Linked DNA regions of Homo sapiens: region 2 is linked to region 1. Evidence: fine-mapped expression QTL. A gene starts in region 1. The other region holds a variant in brackets. All regions are shown on one strand. Distances are from middle to middle. Region 1 holds the start of CBFA2T2 (CBFA2/RUNX1 partner transcriptional co-repressor 2). Region 2 overlaps PXMP4 (peroxisomal membrane protein 4).

Evidence for each region. PIP is the estimated chance that this variant, and not a neighbour inherited with it, causes the effect.
Region 2: its variant is the best candidate, but not a certain one, in a credible set for the expression of CBFA2T2 in skeletal muscle (GTEx, PIP 0.83).

What each region holds. Positions count from the first base shown.
Region 1 is chr20:33,487,086-33,492,401 of GRCh38, forward strand. CBFA2T2 (CBFA2/RUNX1 partner transcriptional co-repressor 2) reads left to right here and starts at 3,011. Exons shown (of 11, transcript NM_001032999.3): 1 at 3,011-3,216. The coding sequence starts at 3,183. RefSeq lists an enhancer at 2,178-2,726 and silencers at 2,821-3,040, 3,051-3,330.
Region 2 is chr20:33,699,093-33,704,442 of GRCh38, forward strand. PXMP4 (peroxisomal membrane protein 4) reads right to left here. Exons shown (of 4, transcript NM_007238.5): 4 at 3,666-5,350. Among named protein-coding and RNA genes, the nearest start is that of E2F1, 15 kb to the left of the region's middle. RefSeq lists enhancers at 774-1,484, 1,485-2,196. The variant A/G (reference allele first, on the strand shown) is at 2,865.

The DNA of each region.
Region 1 (5,316 bases):
AGTGCAGTGGTCGGATCACAGCTCACTGCAGCCTTGACCTCCTGGGCTCAAGCCAATCCTCCTGCCTCAGCCTCCTGAGTAGCTGGGACTACAGGCGTGCACCACCATGCCTTGCTAATTTTTTTATTTTTTGTAGAAAGGAGGTCTCACTTTATTGCCCAGTCTTGAAAATTATTTTTTGATAGGAGCATTGGAGAGATTTTCACAAAGGAAGTGAAATTTCAGCTGGGCTGTTAACCCCATCTGAATTCCTCATAGCCTTTTAGTTGTGGTTTAGAGACCCTTCCTGGGACTCTCTGAGTACATTGGTACCTTTTATTGTGTTTTCCAAAAACGTTCTAGGGAGGGCTTTCTTCATCAGTGCTCATGGCACTTTAAAGAGTATATATATACATGCATGTTCTTTTCTTTTTTTTGAGATGAAGTTTCGCTCTTGTTGCCCAGGCTGAAGTGCAATGGCGCAATCTCGGCTCACTGCAACCTCTGCCTCCCGGGTTTAAGTGATTCTCCTGCCTCAGCCTCCTGAGTAGCTGGTGTTACAGGCATGTGCCCAGCAAATTGTGTATTTTTACTAGAGACAGGGTTCCTCCATGTTGGTCAGGCTGGTCTCGAACTCCCAACCTCAGGTGATCTGTCTGCCTCAGTCTCCCAAAGTGCTGGGATTACAGGCATGAGCCACCATGCCTGGCCACATATGTTCTTTTCTTCTCTCTCTTTTTTTTTTTTTTGTTTTGTTTTGAGACAGAGTCTTGCTTTGTGGCCCAGGCTGGAGTGCAGTGGCATGATCTTGGCTCACTGCAACTGCCACCTCCCAAGTTCAAGCCATCCTCCTGCCTCAGCCTCCTGAGTAGCTGAGACTACAGGCACACGCCACCACTCCTGGCTAACTTTTGTATTTTTAGTAGAGACAGGTTTTCACCATGTTGGCCAGGCTGGTCTCGAACTCCTGACCTTTTGTGATCTGCCCACTTCAGCCTCCCAAAGTGCTAGGATTACAGGTGTGAACCACTATACCCAGCTGGTATATGCACATATGTTCTTATTTCTACATTTTTTTTTCTTTTTTTGAGACAGGGTCTCACTCTGTTACTCACGCCTGATCTGTTAGATCAGGCCAGAGTACATTGGTCTGATCTGGGGTAACTGAAACCTCTGACTCCCTGGCTCATATGATCCTCCCACCGCAGCCTTCTGTGTAGCTGAGACTACAAGCGTGTGTGCAACACCATGTCTGGCTAATTTTTGTATTTTTTGTACAGGCGCGGTTTCCCCGTGTTACCCAGGCTAGTCTTGAACTCCTGGACTCAAGCGATCCACCTGCCTTGGCCTCCCAAAGTGCCGGGATTAGAGGCATAAACCACTGTACCCGGCCGGCCTACATTCTGTCTTTTAAAATTTGTTTTCAATACACAAGTAAAATACAAATGCATTCTATATTCTTGGTGTGAGATATCTGAAATAATACTGAGAAACAAGAGTCTTTATTCTTTTCTTTTCTTTTCAGACGGAGCTTCCCTCTGTTGCCCAGGCTAGAGTGTAGTGGCGCGATTTCGGTTCACTGCAACCTCTGCCTCCCAGGTTCAAGCGACTCTCCTGCCTCAGCCTCCCGAGTAGCTGGGATTATGGACACCCGCCACCGCGCCCAGCTAATTTTTTTGTTTTGTTTTGTTTTGTTTTTTGAGAGGGAGTCTCGCTCTGTCACCCAGGTGGGAGTGCAGTGTCGTGATCTTGGCTCGGTGCAACCTCCGCCTCCGGGGTTCAAGCAATTCTCCTGTCTCAGCCTCCTGATTAGCTGGGATTACAGGCTTGTGAAACCAAGTCCAGCTAATTTTTGTATTTTTAGTACAGACGGGGTTTCACCACGTTGGTCAGGCTGGTCTCCAAATCCTGAGCTGTGATCTGCCAGCTTCGGCGTCCCAAAGTGCTGGGATTACAGGGGTGAGCCACAGCTCCTGGCCTTGTTTTGTTTTTTTGATACGGAGTTTTGCTCTTTTTGCTCAGGCTGGAGTGCAATGGCTCCGATCTCGGCTCACTGCAACCTCCCCCTCCCGGATTCAAGTGATTCTCCTGCCCCAGCCTCCCGAGTAGCTGGGACTAAAGGCACGCGCCACCGCACCAGGCTAATTTTTGTATTTTTATTTATTTATTTTTTTAGTAGAGATAGGGTTTCACCTTATAGGCCAGACTGGTCTTCAAACTCCTGACCTCGTGATCCTCCCGCCTCGGCCTCCCAAAGTGCTAGGATTACAGGCTTGAGCCACTGCGCCCGGCTCTAAGTTTTGTATTTTTAGTAGAGACAGCGTTTCGCCACATTGGCCAGACTAGCCTCGAAGTTCTGACCTCAGGTAATCCACCCTCCTCGGCCTCCCAAAGTGTTAGGATTATAGGCCTGAGCCACCGTGCCTGGTCTATTTTTTATTTTTATTTATTTATTTTTTTAATAGAGACGCTAGTCTCAAACTCCTGAGCTCAAGTGACTCTCCTTTGGCCTCCCAAAGTACTAGGATTACAGGCGTGGGCCACCACGCCCGGCCAACAGTTATTAAAATTACGATGATGAAATTTTAGGCATTTAGAATACTTCAGGCCAAAAACACTTTGAGCCAGGGGGCTCGCTCAAAGGCATGCGCAAAAGCCATCAGGCCTGTACCTGGAGAACTCAGGTGAGACGTTGCCACTCGTTGTAATCCCTCCCCCTAGCACTCGGCCCCCGAGCCTGGGCCACTGCCCTGGCTACACCGGGAAGTCTGGAGCTAGAAAGTGGGCCGTGCGCGTGACGGGCGCGCGTGACGCCGAGGGGGCAGGTCTGAGAAGCAGGCTGCGCCGGGATTCGGCGGTCGGTTCCCGCGGAAGGGGCGGGTCAGGTTAGGGGGCGGTGCTTAATGGGAGCTGGTCTTGGGGCCGGGCTTCCGCGTGCGTTGGCCTGGCGGCGAGAGCGCGCGGCGGGGGCGTGCCCGGCGGGCGGGGCGGGGCCAGCCGGGGGCGGGGCGGGGCGCGGCCTAACGGCGGCGGCGGCGGCGGCGACGGCGACAGCAGCGGTGGTGGTGTCTGGTTAGCTCGGCGGCTGCAGATCTCGCGGCGACGCCTGCGAGGGACCCGGGCCGCGGGTCGAGGCGGGCGGCGCCTGCGAGGGACCCGTGTCGCGGGTAGAGGCGGGCGGCGCGCGGCGGCGGCGCTCGGCGATGGTAGGCGTCCCTGGAGCGGCCGCCTTCCAGCGTAAGTGGGGCGTGAATGCGGGCGGCCGAGGGGGGCGTGTGAGGGCCTGCGGCTCCGCAGGCGCGGTGATTCCGAGTGCCCCGGGCGCGAGGCCGGGAGTGGAAACTGAGGCCCGAAGCGGGGCGGCGGATCCAAGGTCACGCAGCGGGGCGGGCCTTCCCGGGCTCCTGAGGCCACCCCGTCGCTTCCTGCGCCGCCCGAAGAGCTCGGGGCTCACGGTGTGAGGGAAATTGTGGGGCCCGCGGCCTCGGAACTTAGGCCGGGCCGGCGTCCATGGGACTTGCCGGCGGGCAAGAATCATTTTGTTGTCCCAGCGCTGGGGCCACGAAGTCCGGCTCCTGGGGAAATACTACACCCGCCCGATGTTGAGGGTTGGAGGAGATGAGAATGGCCCCTCGGAGGGCCTGTTTGAGCGCAGGCTCAGTAGTTGGCTACCTGGGTTCACATCCAGGCTTCCCCATTTAGGTAGTGACCTTGGCTCTCCCGGTGCCTCAGTTCCCCCATCTGCAAAATGGGGATGTGGAGCGGGTTCCCTCCCTCCCCCAGGGTTCTTGGGTTTTGTGAGGCCAGTAAAACGCTTGACACCGACCGTGGCACACACACAATTGTGAAAACTGTCATTATTGTAATCGTCCTTTATTAATCTGATCCAGTGTGCACCGCACTCGGAAAAGTCCGAAATTAGGCTCTAGCCGTGTTAAGATTTTGTTTTGTTGTCTGTTAGTCCTGCTCCATGATCTAATTGTTATTCTTACTTCCATTTAGCCATTCCAGTATTTATCTAGTGTTCCTCCTTGATGTGTGAGATCCTTGGGGGAGGGGTGGCTTCTCTGAATAAGAACAATAAAATTTTAATTGTTTTTCATTATTGTAATTATAATAGCCAACATTTTTTTGAGCACCAGACATTTTGCATTCTATTCACTTAATATTTATTAAATCATATAGTAAGTTTAAAAATACCATTCCAGGCCCTGGGAATACAATAAACAAGATAGACCGAACTGGGGTTTTGAGTTTAGTTAGGAGAGGGAGAGACATAGTAAATGAGGAAACAGATAAACATGTTTTGCATGTTTTTTTAATTGTTTAATCTTGATGACATCCTAAGTAAGACATTATTTGAGGATGCCCATTTTGCAGAGGATGAAACTGAGTAACAGAAGGTACTCTGAGTACTAGTCTCAGAGCTGATGTCCTTAAACACGTGAAAGGGAGGCTTTACGCTTCTTTTTTTTTGCACCCATTAAATGTTGGATTGAAGATAGAAAAAGTAGATACACCCAGCTTGCAGTTACTGCTTTTGATGGTTTGATCCATTCCTCATGAAATTTCCAACTAAAGAGGCGGATAGTGATTACTCTTTTAGGCTTGCAAAGGTACAGCATCTCTGTAAAATGAAAGGCTTTTTTTTTTTTGAGACGGAATCTTGCTCTGTCGCCCAGACTGGAGTGCAGGGGTGTGATCTTGGCTCACTGCAACCTCCGTCTCCTGGGTTCAAGCTATTCTCCTGTCTCAGCCTCCGGAGTAGCTGGGACTACAGGCATATGCCACCACGCTCGGCCAATTATTTTATTTTATTTTATTATTTTTTTTGAGACGGAGTTTTGTTCTTGTTGCCCAGGCTGGAGTGCAGTAGTACAATATCGGCTCACTGCAACCTCCCCCCGCCCCAGGTTCAAGCGATTCTCCTGCATCAGCCTCCAGAGTAGCTGCGATTACAGGCGCCTGCCACCACACCTGACTAATTTTTTGCATTTTTAGTAGAGACGGTTTTACCATGTTGGCCAGGCTGGTCGTGAACTCCTGAACTCAGGGGATCCATCTGCCTCAGCCTCTCAAAGTGCTGGGATTAGAGGCATGAGCCACTGCGCCCGGCCTTAATTTTTATATTTTTAGTAGAGACAGGGTTTCACCATATTGGTCAGGCTGGTCTCGAACCCCTGACCTCAGGTAATTCACCCACCTCAGCCTCCCAAAGTGCTGGGATTACGAGCGTGAGTCACCAAGCCTGACCAGAAAGGACTTTTTATTTGAAAAAATTGGGGGGCTCTTCTGCCTATGAAGTAGTCTTCCTTTGTTTCTTTACTTCCATAATAA
Region 2 (5,350 bases), 210 kb after region 1:
TGCCCGGCCGCCCATTATCTGAGATGTGCAGAGCGCCTCTGCCCCGCCGCCCCGCCCCGTCTGGGATGTGAGGAGCGCCTCTGCCCGGCCACAACCCCGTCTGGGAGGTGAGGAGCGTCTCTGCCCAGCCGCCCCGTCTGAGAAGTGAGGAGACCCTCTGCCTGGCAACCGCCCCGTCTGAGAAGTGAGGAGCCCCTCCGCCCGGCAGCCACCCCATCTGGGAAGTGAGGAGCGTCTCTGCCCGGCAGCCACCCCGTCCGGGAGGGAGGTGGGGGTCAGCCCCCGCCAGGCCAGCCGCCCCGTCTGGGAGGGAGGTGGGGGGGGGTCAGCCCCCCGCCCGGCCAGCCTCCCTGTCCGGGAGGGAGGTGGGGGGTGTCAGCCCCCCGCCCGGCCAGCCGCCCCGTCCGGGAGGGAGTTGGGGGGGTCAGCCCCCCGCCCGGCCGGCCGCCCCGTCCGGGAGGGAGGTGGGGGGGTCAGCCCCCCGCCCGGCCAGCTGCCTCGTCCGGGAGGTGAGGGGCGCCTCTGCCCGGCCGCCCCTACTGGGAAATGAGGAGCCCCTCTGCCCGGCCAGCCGCCCCATCCGGGAGGGAGGTGGGGGGGTCAGCCCCCCGCCCGGCCAGCCGCCCCGTCCAGGAGGGAGGTGGGGGGTCAGCCCCCCGCCTGGCCAGCCGCCTCGTCCGGGAGGTGAGGGGCGCCTCTGCCCGGCCGCCCCTACTGGGAAATGAGGAGCCCCTCTGCCCGGCCAGCCGCCCCATCCGGGAGGGAGGTGGGGGGGTCAGCCCCCCGCCCGGCCAGCCGCCCCGTCCAGGAGGGAGGTGGGGGGTCAGCCCCCCGCCTGGCCAGCCGCCTCGTCCGGGAGGTGAGGGGCGCCTCTGCCCGGCCGCCCCTACTGGGAAATGAGGAGCCCCTCTGCCCGGCCAGCCGCCCCATCCGGGAGGGAGGTGGGGGGGTCAGCCCCCCGCCCGGCCAGCCGCCCCGTCCGGGAGGGAGGTGGGGGTCAGCCCCCCGCCCGGCCAGTCGCCTCGTCCGGGAGGTGAGGGGCGCCTCTGCCTGGCCACCCCTACTGGGAAGTGAGGAGCCCCTCTGCCCGGCCACCACCCCGTCTGGGAGGTGTACCCAACAGCTCATTGAGAACGGGCCATGATGACAATGGCGGTTTTGTGGAATAGAAAGGGGGGAAAGGTGGGGAAAAGATTGAGAAATCGGATGGTTGCCGTGTCTGTGCAGAAAGAAGTAGACATGGGAGACTTTTCATTTTGTTATGTACTAAGAAAAATTCTTCTGCCTTGGGATCCTGTTGATCTGTGACCTTACCCCCAACCCTGTGCTCTCTGAAACAGGTGCTGTGTCCACTCAGGATTAAATGGGTCGGTGCAAGATGTGCTTTGTTAAACAGATGCTTGAAGGCAGCATGCTCGTTAAGAGTCATCACCACTCCCTAATCTCAAGTACCCAGGGACACAAACACTGCGGAAGGCCGCAGGGTCCTCTGCCTAGGAAAACCAGAGACCTTTGTTCACTTGTTTATCTGCTGACCTTCCCTCCACTATTGTCCTATGACCCTGCTAAATCCCCCTCTGCGAGAAACACCCAAGAATGATCAATAAAAAAAAAAAAAAGAATTTAAAAAAAAATATATTTTTTCCTCTCCCTCTCCCTCTCCCCACGGTCTCCCTCTCCCTCTCCCCACAGTCTCCCTCTCCCTCTCTTTCCACGGTCTTCCTCTGATGCCGAGCCAAGGCTGGACTGTGCTGCCGCCGTCTCGGCTCACTGCGGCCTTCCTGCCTGGTTCTCCTGCCTCAGCCTGCCGAGTGCCTGCGATTGCGGGCCGCACCGCCACCCCTGACTGGTTTTCGTATTTTTTTGGTGGAGACGGGTTTTCGCTGTGTTGGCCGGGCTGGTCTCCAGCTCCTGACCGCAAGTGATCCGCCAGCCTCGGCCTCCCGAGGTGCCGGGATTGCAGACGGAGTGCTCAGTGCTCAGTGGTGCCCAGGCTGGAGTGCAGTGGCGTGATCTCGGCTCGCTACAGCCTCCACCTCCCAGCCGCCTGCCTTGGCCTCCCAAAGTGCCGAGATTGCAGCCTCTGCCTGGCCGCCACCCCGTCTGGGAGGTGGGGAGCGTCTCTGCCTGGCCACCCATCGTCTGGGATGTGAGGAGCCCCTCTGCCTGGCTGCCCAGTCTCGAAAGTGGGGAGCGTCTCTGCCCGGCCGCCATCCCATCTAGGAAGTGAGGAGCGGCTCTGCCCTCCCGCCCATCGTCTGAGCTGTGGGGAGCGCCTCTGCCCTGCTGCCCCGTCTGGGATGTGAGGAGCGCCTCTGCCCGGCCGCGACCCCGTCTGGGAGGTGAGGAGTGTCTCTGCCCAGCCGCCCCGTCTGGGAAGTGAGGAGCCCCTCCGCCCGGCAGCCGCCCCGTCTGAGAAGTGAGGAGCCCCTCCGCCGGGCAGCCACCCCATCTGGGAAGTGAGGAGCGTCTCCGCCCGGCAGCCACCCCGTCCGGGAGGGTGGTGGGGGTCAGCCCCCGCCCGGCTGGCCGCCCCGTCCGGGAGGGAGGTGGGGGGGTCAGCCCCCCGACCCGGCCGGCCGCCCCGTCTGGGAGGGAGGTGGGGGGGTCAGCCCCCCGCCCGGCCGGCCACCCCATCCGGGAGGTGAGGGGCGCCTCTGCCCGGCCGCCCCTACTGGGAAGTGAGGAGCCCCTCTGCCCGGCCGCCACCCCGTCTGGGAGGTGTGCCCAGCGGCTCATTGGGAACGGGCCATGATGACAATGGTGGTTTTGTGGAGTAGAGGAGGGGGAAGGGTGGGGAGAAGATTGAGAAGTCGGATGGTTGCTGTGTCTGTGTGGAGGGGGGTGGACATGGGAGACTTTTC[A/G]CTTTGTTCTGTGGTAGGAAAGGTTCTTCTGCCTTGGGATCCTGTTGATCTATGACCTTGCCCCCAGCCCTGTGCTCTCTGGAACATGTGCTGTGTCCACTCAGGGTTGGGTGGATTGAGGGCGGTGCAGGATGTGCTTTGTTGGGCAGATGCTTGAGGGCAGCATGCTCGTTGACAGTCATCACCACTCCCTAGTCTCGGGTGCCCAGGGACACAGACACTGCGGAGAGCCGCAGGGTCCTCTGCCTGGGAAGACCAGAGACCTTTGTTCACTTGTTTGTCTGCTGACCTTCCCTTCACTGTTGTCCTATGACCCTGCGGAATCCCCCTTTGCGAGAAACACCCAAGAGTGATCAATGGAAAAAAAAAAAAAAACAAAGAAAAAAGGAACAGAAGCAAATGTGGCAACATCTTGATAACTGTTGGAACTGGACGTTGGGTACATGGGGTTCATTAAACTCTTTTCTCTAAAAAAAAAAAAAAAAAATATTTTTTTAGGCTGGGCGTGGTGGCTCATGCCTATAATCTCAGCACTTTGGGAGGCTGAGGTGGGCGGATCATGAGGTCAGGAGATCGAGACCATCCTGGCTACCATGATGAAACCCCATCGCTACTAAAAAAAAATGAAAAAATTAGCCGGGCATGGTGGCAGGCGCCTGTAGTCCCAGCTACTCGGGAGGCTGAGGCAGGAGAATGGCATGAACCTGGGAGGAGGAGCTTGCCATGAGCCGAGATCGCGCCACTGCACTCCAGCCTGGGCGACAGTGCGAGACTCCATCTCAAAATATATACACATATATATTTATTTATTTATTTATTTATTTTAGTCTTACATGTCAAAAGAATTAACAGGATTGTAGCAGGTGTTTAGTAAGTAGAGGTTAAACCATTCTATTTCAGGAACTAGCATTTAGGAAGCATAGCACTTACTGTGCAACAAGAGCCCTCTGGCCATCCCTGTTTTACAGGTCTTAGAGAATGGAGGGCAGCTAGGAAGGAGCCAAATGGGACTCCTCTCAGATCTGCTGGAAGGCAGAGCCCTGCTCCCCGGCACAGACCACACTGCCTTCCTCCCTGGAGTGTGCAGTTGGAAGCACCAGATGCTCTAGCAGCATCCAGAGAGATGCCATCTGTGAGGGAAACCTATTCTTAGAGAGCAGAGACAGTCGGTAGCGGAGTTGGCCAACCCCCAGCAGCAGTGGCGGGACTTCAGGAGGGCAGGCGGCCAAGGTTTCACCTTCAGCTGGGGGCAGGACAGGCTAAAAGCAGGGTGTGCTCAGTCCTCAGGGGCACACTTCCTCTACATTTGGATGCTCTTAGAAATAACAGCATTTATTGGGGACTCACTTTAACTGTGTCATATTCTTTAACCCTCCACACCACTCGATGAGGTGTGTGCTACGACAACGCCTACTTTATCAATGAGGAAATAGAGGCACAGAATGGCTCAGTCACTTGCCCAAGGAAACTGTGGGGCCAGGGCTTGAGCCCAGGCACTCTGGCTCCAAAGCCTATGTCCCTGACCACCATGCTATATTGCCTCTCAACCTGCTGTACAGAGGCCAGTTTTAGTTTGGGTTCCCCCAATAGCAGACTCTAAGACAAGGGTTTGAGTGCAAGTGGTTCATATGGGAAGTGGTCCCAGGAAGCACTGGTAGGGGCATGAGGAAGGGAGATGGGGAGGGTGTTTGAGGCTCAGCCCTGCTGGGCGGCCCTGGGAGTCAGTGTGGAGCACGCACCTCTGAGTTATCCCACCCGAGGGGTGAGGGATGCGGGCTGTGGGAGTGGGGGTATTTATCAGTCATTGGTTGAAGGTTGCTCCAAGGATGTGTTCATTCTCCAGCCCTTCAGGCCTGCCAGAGGCTGGCAAAGGAGGCACCAGTGACAAGCTAGAGTCCTCAGGCAGAAAGACAGAGGGGCGGCCACTGGCAAAGCTGGCTAGTGTGCACCAGAGTCGTTATTTAGAGGAGCTATAGGCAGGGCACCCCCACCATCTGCTATAAAACCTGCCTGGTGATGGCCCAAGCCCTCTGCCCTCCCCAACCCCTAGAGCAGCAGTCCCCAACCTTTTTGGCACCAGGGACCAGTTTTGGGGAAGATAATTTTTCCACGGACCACTGGGGAGGGGACGTGGTTTCAGGATGATTCAAGCACATTGCATTTACTGTGGATTTTATTTCTATTATTATTACCTTGTAATATATAATGAAATAATTGTACAACACACCATAATGTAGAATCAGTGGGAGCCCTGAGTTTGTTTTCCAGCAACTAGACAGTCCCATCAAGGCGTGACGGGAGACAGTGACAGATCATCAGGCATTAGATTCTCATAAGGAGCATGCAACCTAGATCCCTTGCATGCGCAGTTCACAATAGGGTTTGCATTCCTACGAGCATCTAATGCCACCACTGATCTGACAGAAGGCAGAGCTCAGGTGGTAATGTGAGCAGTGGGGAGTGGCTGTACATACAGATGAAGCTTC